Regions from separate parts of the Homo sapiens genome. Here all the other regions are linked to region 1. Evidence: fine-mapped expression QTL. A gene starts in region 1. Each other region holds a variant in brackets. All regions are shown on one strand. Distances are between the middles of the regions.

Region 1 (2,662 bases):
CTAGCCTGGCTGCTCTTGGTGGATTTTCTTTTTCTCTAAGGACCTGAAGAGGTCATTAGGTTGAATAAGAGCCATTACTGACTTTTCTGGCTAAGGTACTAATCAGGATTTGAGGAGGAATCTGGGTCTTCCAGAAAATCATAAGTGTAGACTCCTAGATCCTTGAGCTGCCTGTCACTGATTGGCTGCGTCCTTGGACAAGGCCCTGACCTTCTCTGAGCCCTAATGCTCTGTAAACCCTTCCTCTCCATCTGGGATCACGAGGTGGAATGTAAAATGAATGTTTTTTCAGCTTCGAGTTTTCCTATAGAAACAAGAGTTTGCACTGAGTTGCAAATGACTAGTATTCCTAAAAATAAATAATCAAGGCTATGACTTGAATAGCTAGAAACAGCCTAGAATAGCTTTCTGTTTCACTTGAGGAAGCTTTTTACCTCTTTCAAATGCACCAGGACATTTTTGCAGTCTTTATTTTAATTAAAGCCCATTTATTTTAAAACACATTAAAATATGGGTTGTATATTTTAGCAGTTATTTTATAAAGAATGAAATAGGAAAATTTTGGAAAAGGCTTGGTCATCCTTGATGTTTCTGTTGCGATCCTGCGTGATGTTTAGCACTGTTCTATTGAATGTGTTCTGATACCATCAATAACTAAAGTTCTTTTTATCCTCTTTTCCCCCTTTCTTCCTCTGCTCTTTCTCTTTCTTATTTCTTTCCCTTCTGCTTCCTCTTCTTTAGCTTGACCTCACTGTCCAGGGCCCATGTGGAAAAAGGTTGCTGTTTTCGGTTAGTCTGGGGGAAAATCCTATGATTCACTCCCTTTCCCACCCACCTTCTGGTGGGCCGTTTGTGGCCTTAAGTTAGCAGTGTGTGTGTGTGTGTGTGTGTGTGTGTGTGTGTGTTGCGCACCCTCCCCACGGGCACACCCGCCTGCAAGCCTGGTGTGTGTGTGCGCGCGCGCGGCTGCAAGCGCATGCATACGCCAGCCGGGCCGCCTGTTTGTCAACGTGTGTGTGTGTATGTGTGTATGTGTGTATGTGTGTGTGTGTGTGTATGCACACAGCGCGCACATACAGCAGCACGTTTGCCTAAAAGCCGTGTGAGTGTGTGTGTGTGTAGCGCACGCACACACGCCCGTGCTGCGGCCCGGGCGGGGGGGGGGTGTGCGCGTGCGTGCGGGCGTGCAGCGCGCGCCCTCGCCAGCCCGCCTGGCCGTGCGGCTTTCCCGCAGGAAAGCGGGGCTGGGGGCAGCCCGGCAGCGCCGCTCAACCTAGTGCGCGCCCAGTTGTTTCCATAGGAACCGCGACCGCGCCGGGCCCCTCCAGCGGAGGCCCCCGTGCGAGCATGCCCAGTGCAAGCCGCTAGTTTGGCTCCAGTCTAGGTTTCCAGTAAGTGGCATGCGGGACTCCGGAGGGATCCCAATGAGCTGAGCCGAGAGCCTTTGTGTGCAGAGGGAGGAGGAGGAGGCGGCGGCGGCCGCCGGGCTGGAGACCCCGCCCGGGGAGCCCCCAGCAGGAACAATGCTAGCCTGCCTGACCCGAGGGAACTTACTGGACGTCCTGCAGGAGGGCTTCAATGAGGTAACTGTCCTGCTCCTCCCACTCCTCAGCTCCCCTCCCCCAGCGTCTCCCGCCCAGTCTCCGGAAGGGGTCCTCCTCCTCCTCCATCCTTTGGGGACCCCAGAGCAAATCGCCCCCAGAACCCCAAAGGGGCTAAGGTGGTACTTACGGTGCAGATGGGTGAACCAGGAGAAATCAGAAGGGCTGCCTGCCCACAGCTAAGCTGGGCCATGACCTTCCCTGGTAGCTTACCTGAGCCCAAGAGGACAGGACCACAAATTCAGAAATCACCTCCTTCCAGAAGAGGGGGTCTCCATCCTCCCTAGAGCTTCTCTCTCCAAGGAAATCCTCAGGGAATCCCTGGATATTTGGCAAAAGTGCTCATCTATATCAGGAGCTAACCAGCGGAGCCAAGGGAGGGTGGAGTGGTACTGCATTGGTAGAAAGTTTGAGAGGGCAGGGGACTGTAGATGGTCCATGTGAAGTGCCCTCTTCATGTCTGAATCTCTTTCTGAGTGCGGGGCAGTAGATTTCTCTGCAATCAAGGACATGGTTGTCTGAGAGGAGCTACTGAGCGAGAGGGGACCTGGGTCCTGGGTCCAGGGAGCCAGCGCGTGCACCGGTCCATGTGAGAGCAGAGGAACTGGGGCCTCACTCTGACAGGCAAGATGGGCTAGGGCCGACAAGGGGTCATTTCCTCCCCACTTGTTTCTCTTACAATTCTGTTTATTGCATTTGCTTTTCTTGTGACCCAGGAAATTCTGGTTTGGGATGCTTCCCCCTCAAGATTTGCTCCATACGTCTTCGACTGCAGCTAAGCCCTACTCTTGCGGGTTGTCTTAGCCCAGCATCCAGGGAAACCTAGGCTGTTAGTTGTGTCTTTCTTCATTTCTCTCTCGCTCCTTTTCCTTCCATCTCTCTCTTTCTTCTCTCTGTGACTCTCTGAAATTTAAGATTTTTAAAATCAGTTTTTACTCAACATATGAATACATTGTCTTCTTAAATATGAGCATTTGATAGGCAAGACTGAAGTGCCTTTGGCTCCCCCCACCCATTCCAGCCTTTTCTCCAGAAATAACCATTCTCATGAATTCGTGTAT
Region 2 (2,662 bases), 140 kb before region 1:
AACTACAAAAAAGGTGAGAATTACATAGAAGGAAAAGCTAAGAAGGATCTATTTAACATCAGAGTGTGGCACTGGAAAAAAATCCTTTAGAAGACAAACCTCCTTTTCTCCTGCAGATTCTGGCTGTGATCTTTAGTAGCATTATCTATCTATATCACACAAAGCCACTAACTAATTTCTTCCAGAAGATGGAATCAGAAAGCAGCCAATATATGCTTAGGCCCATTCTCACCTCTAAGCTGGGATGGGAATATATTGTAATTTCTTTTTTTTCTTTTGAGACAGGATCTCACTCTTTCACCTGGGCTGGAGTGTAGTAGTGTGATCCCAGCTCACTGCAGCCTTGACCTCAAGGGTTCAAGTGATCCTCCCACCTTAGCCTCCTGAGTAGTTGGGACTAAGGTGTGTGCCACCATTCCCAGCTAATTTTTTACTTTTTGCAGCGACGGGGTCATACTATGTTGCCCAGACTAGTCTCAAACTCCCGGGCTCAAGCAATCCTCCCACCTTGGCCTCCCAAAGTGCTAGGATTACAGGTATGAGTCACTGCACACGGCCTGTGATTTTCTTTTTAACCAAAAGAACAAGCTGGCTTGAATTCTTCATTTCTAACATTCCAGCTGCTGTTCTAGATTATTTTATCATCAAAAGCTTTAATATACTAAGCATAACTGGGGCATTTTGAATTGTTATATTGTATTGTTATTGAAAAAAGGAAATCAAATTGGTAATTTGCCTTTATAAAAGGAAAGAGCGGGCCAGGCATGGTGGCTCACGCCTGTAATCCCAGCACTTTGGGAGGCCGAGGCGGGCGGATCACAAGGTCAGGAGAGCAAGACCATCCTGGCTAACATGGTGAAACCCCTTCTCTACTAAAAATACAAAAAATTAGCCAGGCATGGTGGCGGGTGCCTGTAGTCCCAGCTACCTGGGAGGCTGAGGCAGGAGAATGGCGTGAACCCGGGAGGCGGAGCTTGCAGTGAGCCGAGATCGCGCCACTGCACTCCAGCCTGGGTGACAGAGTGAGAGTCCAGCTCAAAAAAAAAAAAAAAAAAGGAAAGAGCAGTTGTGCACTGGAATGACATGTGCCTGCACACATTTATACACATGGAAACAAAGATCAGACTGATTCACAGACAACACTAATGCCTATCAAAACTCATACAATAATGTCTGTAATAAAGTGAAATGCCAAAGTACTGCCCTAGGGCAGCACAGGCAGCGTGATTCAGGGAGACATAAATATGTGCCTCTATCATGGAAACTGAAATACTTCCCCTCCCAGTGAGAAAGTCACTCAAGTGATTCAAGGATGAAACAGATCTGGGCAAAGCAATTGCCTGCACAGCATAATTAGCTCACGGCTCAGAATGTTTTCTAATTCAATTACTGGCCCTATCTATCAGGGCTGAGGAGCATTCGGCGGTGGAGATTTAAATCTGCTCTTGCTGACGTCAATGAATGACTGGCTGCCAGTCCCTGATGTCACCAGTTCAGCAGGCACAAATGGAAATGCTGGGTCAATTTTTTATTTTAAAAAGAAAACATCCTAGTATCCAGGTTTTCTTTCTCTTTTAAAAGACAGGATCTTGCTCTGTTGCCCAGGCTGGAGTGCAGTGGCATGATCACAAGTCACTGCAGCCTCGACCTCCTGGGTTCAAGTGATCCT[C/T]CCTGATCTGTCTCCAGAGTAATGGGACTACAGGTATGTGCCACCACACCCAGCTAATTTATTATCATTATTATTATTTATAGAGACAGAGTCTCACTATGTTGCCCAGGATGGTCTTAAAGCTTCAAGCAATCCTGTGGCCTCAGCCTCCCAAATAGTGGGACTGCAGGCATGAGCCACCATGCCTGGCCCACATCTTGTCCTGTCTTCCTTCTCCTCTCTTCTCTTCTCCTCTCCTCTCTTTCTGTTTTTCTCTTCTCTCTCTACCTATCTATCTATCCATCCATCCATCCACCCATCCATCCAAGCATTAATATCCCCTGTAAGCCTGTAATCTAAGCCCACTGCCAGTTATCTTTCCAGCCGCAGCTTTTTCAAGCTAGTTTCTTTCTCTCTTGCATTGTAGCTCACCTTTCAGTGAGAGATTTTCTACAACCTTTAGTGCAGAACTTGGCTTTTGCAGCTATCTTCAGTTCTGAAGAGAATCTCAGAATTCCTTCAAGACTTAGTGATAGTCAACCTATAGTTCCATATCAAGCAATTTAAGCACATCTCAAAAAGCTGGTATGGAGCAAAAATGTGACTGTTATTTAATAGTTTTTAACAGGAAATGCGGTGAGAGACATTATTCTAATGGTAACTAATGCAAAGGTGACTTACAACCCTGTTATCCAAAAGAGGAGTTCCATGCTGTATGTTATACTCCACCAGTCCCTTGAGGATGGAATTTTATCTAACTGCTCTATCTCTAGTTTTTAGGAAAGTGCCACAGAAAGTCCTCAATAAATAGTCTGTGAATGAATGAGCGCCTATGCTCTGACTCTTAAACCAGAGCATCTGGTTTACCTCCCACCCTTCTTACAATATTCATCTTCCACAAGGAAAAGGAAATATCAAAAATAATCTAAAGTTTTTTTTCTGTTCTCTTCCTAAGCAATTCAATCCTAAAGCCATTACGTGGGGCAGAGCAAAGCAGAAGTCTAGAGTGGGGAG
Region 3 (2,662 bases), 270 kb after region 1:
AATGGCGTGATCTCGTCTCACTGCAACCTCCGCCTCCTCAGTTCAAGCAATTCTCCAGCCTCAGCCTCCCGAGTAGCTGGGATTACAGGCATCTGCCACCATGCCCGTTGTATTTTTAGTAGAGATGGGGTTTTGTCATATTGGCCAGGCTGCTCTCGAACTCCTGACCTCAGATGATCTGCCCACCTTGGCCTCCCAAAGTTCTGGGATTACAGGCTTGAGCCACCACACCCAGCCTTTAATAACATTTTCTTATTTTCTTTTATCTGGTTTGCTTTATTGTAATAATACAGTATATAATACATATGAAATACAAAATATGTGTTAATTAACTGTATGTTATTGGTAAGGCTTCCAGTCAACAATAGTTTATTAGTAGTTAAATTTTTGAGTAGTCAAAAGTTATGTGTGGATTTTCGACTATGTAGGGGGTTGGCACCTCTACCCCACTCCGTGTTGTTCAAGGGTCATCTGTATTTTTTATTTCTTTAGGAACTCCTATACTGTTTTTCATAATGGCTGTACCAATTTATATTCCCACCAACAATGTACTAGAGTTCCCTTTCTTCTACACCCTTGCCAACATTTGTTATCTCTTGTCTTTTTGATAATAGCCATCCTTATGAGTGTGAGGTTTTATATAGTGGTTTTAATTTGTATTTCCCTTATGGTTAGTGATGTTGAGCACCTTTTTATATGCCTATTGGACTTTCAAATTTTATTTTATTTTTTATTTTATTCTTTTAGGGACAGGATCTCACTCTGTTGCCCAGGCTGGGTGCAGTGGCATGATCATAGCTCACTGAAGCCTCAAACTCCTGGGAACACGTGATCCTCCTGCCTCAGCCTCCCAAGTAGCTGGGTCTACAGGTGCGTGGCACCACACTCAGCTAATATTTTAAAAACTTTTTTGTAGAGACAGGGTCTTATTATGTTGCCAAGGCTGCTGTCAAACTCCTGGGCATGCATGATCCTCCTGCCTCAGCCTCACAAGTAGCTGGGATTACAGGTGCATGGCACCACACTCAGCTAATATTTTTAAAACTTTTTTGTAGAGACAGGGGCCTTGTTATGTTGCCAAGGCTTTTCTCAAACTTCTGGGCTCAAGTGATCCTCCTGCCTCAGCCTCCCAAAGTGCTGGGATTACAAGTGTGAGCTACCACACCTGGCCTCTATTTTTGGAGAAATGACTGTTCAGGTCCATTGCCCATTTTTTATTTATTTTTAATTAATTAATTAATTAATTTATTTTTAACTTTTAATTAAAAAGTAAACTTTAATATTGAAAATGCAAACTTGGGGAAGACAGAAAAGATCACACACAAGGCTGTCACTTCACACTTGGAAGGTTGCGCAGCGGCCAGGCAGAGGCGCTCCTCACATCCTAGACGGGCGGCAGCTGGGCAGAGGTCCTCCTCACTTCCCAGACAGGGCGGGGGCCGGGCAGAGGCGCTCCTCACATCCCAGACAATGTGGGGGCCAGGCAGAGGCGCTCCTCACTTCCCAGACAGGGCAG[C/T]GGCCGGGCAGAGGCGCTCCTCACTTGCCAGAGGGTGGGCGGCTGGGCAGAGGCACTCCTGGGGCGGCAGGGGCGGCAGCTGGGCAGAGGTGTTCCTCAGTTCCCAGACGGTGGGCGGCCGGGCAGAGGCGCTCCTCACTTCCCAGACGGGGCGGCGGCCGGCTTTTCCCATTTTTTAATTGGGTTATTTGTTTTTCTGGTATTGAGTTGTAAGAGTTCTTTATAAATTTTGAGGCCAGGTGTGGTGGCTCACGCCTGTAATCCCAGCACTTTGGGAGGCCAAGGTGGGAGGATTGCTTGAGCCCAGCAGTTCAAGATCAGCCTGGGCAAGATGGCAAGACCTCATCTCTACAAAAAAATTTAAAAATATACAAATTTTGAGTATAATTCCTTATTGGATATGTGGTTGCAATTTTTTTCCCCAGCCCATAGGTCGCCTTTTCGTTTTGTTGATTGTTTCCTTTGCTGTGCAGAAACTTTTAAATTTGATGTCAACTTGTCAGTTTTTGCAAGGAAAAAACCTGATACAATATTGCAACTGTAGATCAATTTGGAGACAATTGACATCTTTACAATATTGAGTCTTCCAATCCATGAACATGGAATATCCCTCCATTTATTTGGGTCTTTTAAAATTTCTCTCAGTAAAGTTATAGTTTTCAGTATAAAGATACTACATTTCTTTTTGTGTGTTTTGAAATTATTGTAAATGGTATCTTTTAAGCTTTCATTTTCTGTTTGTTGCTCTTTATAGAAATGCAATTGATTTTGTATATTATCTTCATATCCAGAGATCTTGCTAAATTCACTTATTAGTTCAAATAGTTGATCCACAGATTATTTTGGATTTTCTATGTGCACAGTCATGTTACCTGAAAATAATGACAGCTTTCTTTCTAATACTTAGGGCTTTATTTCTTTTTCTCGCCTTACTGTACCAGCTAGGACTTCGAGTTGAATAGAAGTGCAAGATAGTGAATAGAAGTTGAATAGGTAGTGTTGAAAAATGTTTAATAATTCATTATTAAATATAAAATTGCTATAGGTATTTTTCTAGCTATCTTTATCAGATTATCCTAATAGTGCCTTTTAATGAATAAACATTCTTAACTTAATATGGCCCAGTATACAGTCTCTTCCTTTATG

The links. PIP is the estimated chance that this variant, and not a neighbour inherited with it, causes the effect.
Region 2: its variant is the best candidate, but not a certain one, in a credible set for the expression of DIXDC1 in whole blood (INTERVAL, PIP 0.63).
Region 3: its variant is the best candidate, but not a certain one, in a credible set for the expression of DIXDC1 in whole blood (INTERVAL, PIP 0.64).

Annotation. Positions count from the first base shown.
Region 1 is chr11:111,935,977-111,938,638 of GRCh38, forward strand. DIXDC1 (DIX domain containing 1) reads left to right here and starts at 1,367. Exons shown (of 20, transcript NM_001037954.4): 1 at 1,367-1,583. The coding sequence starts at 1,524. RefSeq lists a silencer at 1,144-1,243.
Region 2 is chr11:111,792,724-111,795,385 of GRCh38, forward strand. All of the region lies in intron 14 of ALG9 (ALG9 alpha-1,2-mannosyltransferase), which reads right to left. It overlaps LOC124902756 (a long non-coding RNA gene), which reads left to right and starts at 1,585. Exons shown (of 2, transcript XR_007062891.1): 1 at 1,585-2,662. The variant C/T (reference allele first, on the strand shown) is at 1,670.
Region 3 is chr11:112,204,728-112,207,389 of GRCh38, forward strand. All of the region lies in intron 8 of BCO2 (beta-carotene oxygenase 2), which reads left to right. Among named protein-coding and RNA genes, the nearest start is that of PTS, 20 kb to the right of the region's middle. The variant C/T (reference allele first, on the strand shown) is at 1,517.